Homo sapiens: one gene and its partner. The protein of the gene in region 1 interacts with the protein of each later gene in a pairwise test. Each region holds a gene or a part of one and is shown in the gene's direction. Other genes may lie near its edges.

Evidence for each region.
Region 2: the proteins of ADO (region 1) and CAP2 interact in binary tests that used the Homo sapiens proteins (3 or more experiments, as listed by UniProt).

The regions. Positions count from the first base shown.
Region 1 is NC_000010.11:62,802,905-62,806,820, forward strand, and holds the start of ADO (2-aminoethanethiol dioxygenase), read left to right. Parts: upstream 1-1,815; 5' UTR 1,816-2,155; coding exon 2,156-2,968; 3' UTR 2,969-3,916. UniProt on the Homo sapiens protein: Plays a vital role in regulating thiol metabolism and preserving oxygen homeostasis by oxidizing the sulfur of cysteamine and N-terminal cysteine-containing proteins to their corresponding sulfinic acids using O2 as a cosubstrate.
Region 2 is NC_000006.12:17,536,406-17,540,321, forward strand, and holds part of CAP2 (adenylyl cyclase-associated protein 2), read left to right. Parts: intron 1-2,863; coding exon 2,864-3,053; intron 3,054-3,916. UniProt on the Homo sapiens protein: Involved in the regulation of actin polymerization.

The DNA.
Region 1 (3,916 bases):
TACTCCGGAGGCTGAGGCAGGAGAATGGCGTGAACCCGGGAGGCGGAGCTTGCAGTGAGCCGAGATCGCACCAGTGCACTCCCGCCTGGGCAACAGACCCAGACTCCGTCTCAAAAAAAAAAATAATAATAATAATTGCTTGAGGAAGCATCTTAAATATAAATCATAGGGGCAACCCGCTGTGGTCCCCTTCCAAGCTGTGGAAGCTTTGTTATTTCGCTCTTCACGATAAACCTTGTTACCCCTCAAAACAAACAAACAAACAAACAAAAAAAAACCACACACAAAAAAATAGGCTTCACTCCAGTTCTTCTGAATCAAAATCTCTGAGGTGTGACCCCAAGATCTTTATTTTTTAAGCTCTCCAGGGGGTTCTGATGAGTAGGGTTCAGAACTTTTGTTCCCTTAACACCGGCATTCTACAAATGAATAAATTGAGGCCCTAAAAGGGTAGGATTTGCCTAACGACACACAGCTTGTAAGTACACACAGTAGGCTGGAACAACAATATCCTGACTCTCGTTTGGTGCTTTTACACCAATTCAAGCTGCTGTTTTTGGTAAGACTGTACTTATTTCTGCTCTGCTGCTCATGCTTTGCTGGGTACTTAGTATTCACTATCCTACAACTTATTCCCTCATCTGCAATCTGGGAATAATAATAGTGCCTGCCTCTTAAGAGTTGCTGCAAGGATTAAATAGTATAACATTCATTATATAATGCACTTAACACAGTGCCTGGCATATTGTGAGTACTCATTAGCCAGGTTATGTAATCCACTTTAAAAAGTATGCCTATTTTAACTGGAGAGGATTCACTGAACCACTCCAATTACAAAATGTACAAGAAACCCATGTTCAGCTTTGGAATCCAAAAAGACTTTAAACTCAGGGTTAAGTTTAAAGTCATAGTATCTAATGTCTTGCTTTTCTAGTCATTTACTTATGCCAAAAGTTAGTTCACGCCAAGGAGAAGGATGCCTCTGTGTAGTGAAACAATTTCACAATTACTGACTGAACTGACTGTTGCACACCACTATTTCTCCTAGGATGCCTCAGAACCATCTAGTAACTCCATCTCTGGGTGACGACAGGGAATCTGCATTTATAAAAGCCCGCTCCCCCTTCTCAGGCAAACCAAGATTTGATAACCACTAGTATGTTCAGAATCCACGACCACTGTAAATGGCCTCTCAAGTCTCTCCAGCAAAAAGCTATACTGCTCTGTAACCAGAAGAGCAGCGTCATCAGGTCCTGATGCAAACAACAGCTGGGCCCAGCTGGGCCCAGCTGGGCCGAGTAACCTTGATGATCACAGAGGACGGCCTGGACCCCCTCCCCTCCTAGGAAACACAAAATTATAAAAGCGCCCTCCTGCAATTCCCGTGGGAGACAGTGCTGCCTAGGCCGCTACGAGGAGCTAAGGCTGACTCAACAGCCTCCTTCCCAGGGGCAAGGCCAAAGGAAGGCGACCCTGCATGGCTAACCAGGCCCCAGCGCGGCGCCAGAAGGTTAACGACCCTCCCTGCCCCTTTCCTTATGAAGGCCAAGAGCCTCCACTACTCCGGGGGCCAGCTGACGGAAGTGCGTCACTCCACCCTGCGGGGAGTGCCGGGAGTTGTAGTCAAGTGGCTACTAATCTTCCACCCCGATTCATCTTTTCTAAAACAAGAAAAACACCTCTGCATCCTGAAAAAGATCGCTTTATGCCCAACATGTGTAATAGTTCCTCTATTTTCCAATCAACAAACTGAACTATCTCAGAGCTCAAGCGGAAGGCCGGACTACAAGTCCCGGCATGCTCCGCAGGGTCCCCGGGCGCCCGGCCACCGTCGTAGGTGCGGGCCGCATGAATGGAGCGCCGGGCGTAAGGCAAAGCCTGGCACCGTCTGCGCGGCCGCTATCTGCTCCCGGAGCGTGAGTGCGGGGTGTGGGGCGTGCGCGTGCGCGCTCAGAGGGGGCTCAAGGCGAGCGCGCCGGGCAGTTGCGGGCGCGTGGCTGCTGAGGTTGGCGGCGGTGCCGCGCGCCCGACGGGCCGGTGGTTGCGGGGCCTCCCGCCTCGACCCGGGCTGGGGGCAGCCGTGGCGGCCGCCGGGGACCGCAAGGGGCGGAGGAAAGGAGGGGGCCGGTCCCGGCACGCAGAGGAGCAGCCGACCATGCCCCGAGACAACATGGCCTCCTTGATCCAACGGATCGCCCGCCAGGCTTGCCTCACCTTCCGGGGCAGCGGGGGCGGCCGCGGCGCTTCCGATCGCGACGCGGCTTCTGGCCCGGAGGCGCCGATGCAGCCGGGCTTCCCCGAGAACCTGAGCAAGCTGAAGAGCCTCCTGACCCAGCTCCGCGCCGAGGACTTGAACATCGCCCCGCGCAAGGCCACACTGCAGCCGCTGCCGCCCAACCTGCCGCCAGTCACCTACATGCACATCTACGAGACGGACGGCTTCAGCCTGGGCGTGTTCCTGCTCAAGAGCGGCACGTCCATCCCGCTGCACGACCACCCGGGCATGCACGGCATGCTCAAGGTGCTGTACGGCACCGTGCGCATCAGCTGCATGGACAAGCTAGACGCGGGCGGCGGGCAACGGCCGCGGGCCTTGCCGCCCGAGCAGCAGTTCGAGCCGCCGCTGCAGCCCCGGGAGCGAGAAGCCGTGCGGCCGGGCGTGCTGCGTTCGCGGGCCGAGTACACCGAGGCCAGCGGCCCCTGCATCCTCACACCGCACCGGGACAACCTGCACCAGATCGACGCCGTGGAAGGGCCTGCCGCCTTCCTGGACATCCTGGCCCCGCCCTACGACCCGGACGATGGCCGGGACTGCCACTATTACCGGGTGCTGGAGCCGGTCAGGCCCAAGGAGGCCTCCAGCTCGGCCTGTGACCTGCCTCGAGAGGTGTGGCTCCTGGAGACCCCACAGGCCGATGACTTCTGGTGCGAGGGAGAACCCTATCCAGGTCCCAAGGTCTTCCCTTGAAGCCACTGGCGCCCAGGAGCGGTGGGCCGAAGACGTGCCCTACCCTACCACAAGGGCTGTGTCTCTACCCCCTAGCCTGGGCGTTGGATCTACTGGAATGAGCAGCAGCCGCTTCCTCGGCAGCCTTGGGAAGCACGGGCGACTGGACAGCAGCCGCCGGGCACGGTTATGGGGGCGGGGTGGGCGGGGAGGCTAGATTGTTTCCTGGTACTGTCACTGCCACTGGGGCTTTGATTTGGAGGAATGGGGCAGGGGACTATCTGAAGCGCTTCCATCCTAAAGCCATAATGAAAATATCTTCCTCTCTTCCCCATTCTATACAAAATACTAAGTGGTTTTCTTGCTCCCACTCCCTACCCCTTAGTTAAATAGGGTTTATTTTCCACTCATGCCCTTATGCCTTTTTTTCTTATAGTTTTTTAACTTATTGACTGTGCATGACCCAGTGGTTTGAATTGTTTTTAGTTCAAGTCATTGGTAAAAACTAGGTTTAAGGAGATGAGCTACTGTTTAAAGTGAGCTGGCCTGCCTAATTAATTCCTTGTGAAAACTAAATGATTTTTTCAGTTTGGGGATCATTCTCACAACATAACTATGCATGTAGAGGACAAGATTTATTTTCTTTCCTCCCTTTGCCCAGTAGCCACATCTGGTTTACTCAGGCAGCATCTACTAAGAAATTCAGCACCTGCATATCTCTGTGACATGGTCACTTAGAGCTTATCTTCCCTATGAATCTCCAGATCTGTGAGTCGAGCAGATTTCATGTTGCAGATTCACCTTTAATGCAAAGACTGTATTATCCTCACATGACTTTTTTTCTTGTCTTACTGTACCTTAAAAGGTGATAGAGTAATTCTGTATTTTCTAACGGGAAGATTCAAAGGAGCTGAATGTGTTATGCTTCCAAACAACTGAATGTAAAACACTCCTAGCCAGTTGTTGCAT
Region 2 (3,916 bases), on another chromosome or scaffold:
CTGGGGCCGATATGGGAATAAGCCAGGACATACAAAGGATTAGACCAAGATGGAGTTTCAACTGGTCCTGAGTTCCCTTATTTTTTGGCTTTTATTTTCAACTTTGTAGCATTAAATGCTTTGTCTCGCGTTCCTGGGCCAGCCATCTGAATGTATCAAAGTTCCAAAAAGTTGAATATGTGGCTTTTTAGTTTCAGTGTCCTTTAATGGCTCTTGGAGAGAGAGTCTCTGAATTCTGAGAGCTAGGGAACCATCTAAATCATTTTAAGATTTAGAAGCCAGCATCATCTTCCCTTTACACAAAATAGGACTATAAAGCTGCAGTGTTTCAGATGTTGGGGGAAGGGGCTGTCCCTTCACCGGCTGTATGAGTTATGATGTGCTTATGAGTAAAAGTAATACTTCGTGGTTCTCAGTGTCTGAGGACTAGAATACTGTTTGATGTCCAAAGCTTATATTATACTCTCTTTCTGATTCAGAGCAAATTCTCAAATTTTATCCCAGTAACATAGAAAACATTTCAAATACTGGTGAGAAAAATGGTCAGTCTCAGGAACTGTGAAATCATTTTCTACTTGACCTAAGAAACCTGATGGAATTAGGCTGCTCTTTCTTAGAAACAAAGACTATTGCAAATTAAATCTTCAGGAGATGAGCCCTCCAGCCTGCAGGGTTTCTAAAACATGCATTCTGAATAAGACAATTATATTTTATTTTCAGGGTAATTCTACACTTAATAGGAATTATATAAGTGCTTTGAAAATAGCGTGTTGTGTTGTTTTGTTTTGTTTTGCTTTGAGACAGGGTCTCACTCTCTGTTTTCCAGGCTGGGGTACAGTGGCGTGATCTCAACTCACTGCAACCTCTGCCTCCCAGGCTTAGGTGATCCTCCCACCTCAGCCTCCGCAGTAGCTGGGACTACAGGCATGCATCACCATGCTCAGCTAATTTTTTGTATTTTTTGTAGAGACAGGGTCTCACTTTGTTGCCCAGGCTGGTTTCAAACTCCTGGCTCAAGTGATCCAAGCGATCTACCCTTCTCGGCTTCCCAAAGTGCTAGGATTACAGGCATGAGCCACCATGCCCGAGCCAGCATGTTTTGTTTTGTTTTGTTTTTAACTGAAAACTACTACAGATTAAGAATCGCTGATTTTGATACTGCATAATACTAAATTGTTTATGACAATAAGGATATTCTGTTTTCATTAATATTTGGCACTTACGTAATGTTTTACCTTTCATATTTGATATTGAAAATTGATGAGTCCAAGCCACATTTCCATTACTCGCAATTTTTTAAGCTTCGTGACTATTTAATTTGTTTATAGTTCCCTATTATAGGTATACAGTTCTACTTGAGGGTTCAAAAGTAAAACAGGGCCGGGCACAGTGGCTTACACCTGTAATCCCAGCACTTTGGGAGGCTGAGGCGGGTGGATAATCTTGAGGTCAGGAGTTCGAGACCAGCCTGACCAACATGGCAAAACCCTGTGTCTACTAAAGATATAAAAATTAGCTGGGCTTGGTGGTGCATGTTTTTAATCCCAGCTACTCAACAGGCTGAGGCAGGAGAATTGCTTGAACCTGGGAGACTGATGTTGTAGGGAGCCGAGATCATGCCACTGCACTCCAGCCTGGGCAACAGAACAAGACTCCATCTCAAAATTAAATAAAAGTAAAACAGTATATAGGCCAAGTTTGTGGTATATGTGTGTTTCTATCCTACCAGTTTTAAGTTCTGTGAAAATATCACAGATATACAATATTTTGGATATTTTCCAAAATATTAAAACTGGTACTTTGGGAGGCCAGGGCAGGAGGATTACTTAAAGCCAGGAGTTCAAGACCAGCCTGGGCAACATAGTGAGACCTCATCTCTCAAAAAAAAAAAAAATTAAAAATTAGCCAGTTAGAGTGGCACATGCCTGTTGTCCCAGCTATTCAGGAGGCTAAGCCAGGAGAATCGCTTGCGCCCAGGAGTTTGGGGCTGCAGTGAGCTATGTTCACGCCACTGCACACAGCCTGGGCAGTAGAGTGAGACCCTGTCTCCTTAAAAAAAAGCAAAACTGAACTAAAGCAAGTCTCTCTCTTGTCTATCACGTCTTATTGCCATTTGAATTTGTTAGGCTTTCATACTGAAAACAAAGGTTGTGCTTTACATAGCAGTGAAAATAAGAATAACCATAGCTCTTGGATCAGGAAGAATCTAATTTTCAGTTGGTTCACTAACAGCCAACATTTGATGAAAAGTCATGTGGATCCTGGACCCTCATTACCTTCGGGTTTGACAAGCATCCCGGTCACATATGCTCCTTGTTTGGGGGTCAGTTTGCAGCAGGCATATTTGGAAAATCAGGTCCAGAGAGTTTCTGTATCTCTCTCTTTCACTGCTTAAAAAGGTTCGGAAACATCCAATCACCACTGAATATTTTTACCCTTCCCCACACCCCATTGGTGGTCACAGTTTCCAGTGTCTCAAAAGAGCTAATCGTTTTATCAATTGGATCACTTTTTTCTTGTGATTCTAAATTGGCCAAGGCCCAGTGTCATTTAGATCCTGAGCCTTGGACCTGGACTTGGGAGTATGGCTCGTTTGCCTCTGATTTGGCAGCAGGGCTCATTGCCGCACAGATCCTACTGATGGGGCCACACAGCTAAGTCATGTTCCACTTTCCCAAGCTGGAGCTGCCATGGTTCAGATCCTCCCAAACAGACCCATGATGCACAGGTGTGCCCTCTGGGAGCCTTTGCTCAGGCTTCAACCCCACTCTCTCATTGGCAGCAGGTTTCGACTCTCTCGGGCAAAATCCCAGCAAGGGCGCAGTCTCAATGCAATGCAATGCCCTGTCTTCTGTCTTCTCAGGGTCCTGTAGCATCCACAGTATCAGCGTTTTCTGTCCTCTCCTCTGGGCCTGGCCTTCCTCCACCCCCTCCTCCTCTGCCTCCTCCAGGGCCACCTCCACTTTTCGAGAATGAAGGCAAAAAAGAGGAATCTTCTCCTTCACGCTCAGCTTTATTTGCCCAACTTAACCAGGGAGAAGCAATTACAAAAGGTGAGAGAGAAAAGAAGACCTTGAAGCTGCCTCCCTTTCCCTCTGGCTCCCAGACACAAAAGAGCCGCTGGAGCCCCAGTGATGGATACATCACTCCATCCCTGCCTCCAGCATGCAGGGAGAGGGGGAACTGGTGCTGGGAAGACAGGAGCCTGCCATGTTCCTTATGTCCATGCAGACGGGCTCAGGGGGTCACTGTGTAGACCAGAAAGAAGTATTCAGAGACTCTGGGTTCTAAATGGACCACTGTGCTGCATCCTTGCTTTAGACCCCAGTACTTCCACATCATTGTCCACAACCAAGGCATCAAGATCAAGTGAAATAAAAATAAAAATGGCAGGCTGGGCATGGTGGCTCACACCTGTAATCACAGCACTTTGGGAGGCCAAGGCAGGCCTATTGCTTGAGCCCAGGAGTTCAAGACCAGCCTGGGCAACATAGTGAGACCCCATCTTTACCAAAAATAAACAGAAATTAGCTGGGCATTGTGGCACACACCTGCAGTTCTAGCTACTAAGGAATCTGAGGTGGGAGGATCGCTTGAGCCCAGGAGGTGGGGGCTGCGGTGAGCTGAGATCGCACCACTGCACTCCAGCCTGGGTGACAGAGTGAGACCTTGTCTCTAAATAAATAAAAGTGGCAAACATTAGCTCCTCTGTCCTGAAGCAGTGTACAGGCTTGTCAAAGAATTATATCCCACTATACTGGGCTTGGAGCTAAGAATCCAAAATTCTAAATTTTTCTCTGGCTCCAACTGGTTCTGCTGTGCCTTGTGAAACTCATTTGCAAAGTAAAGGAATGGATTCGTAAAGTCAATTCCATATCCTGATATATACTCACTGGAATGCCCTAACCTTTTAGGC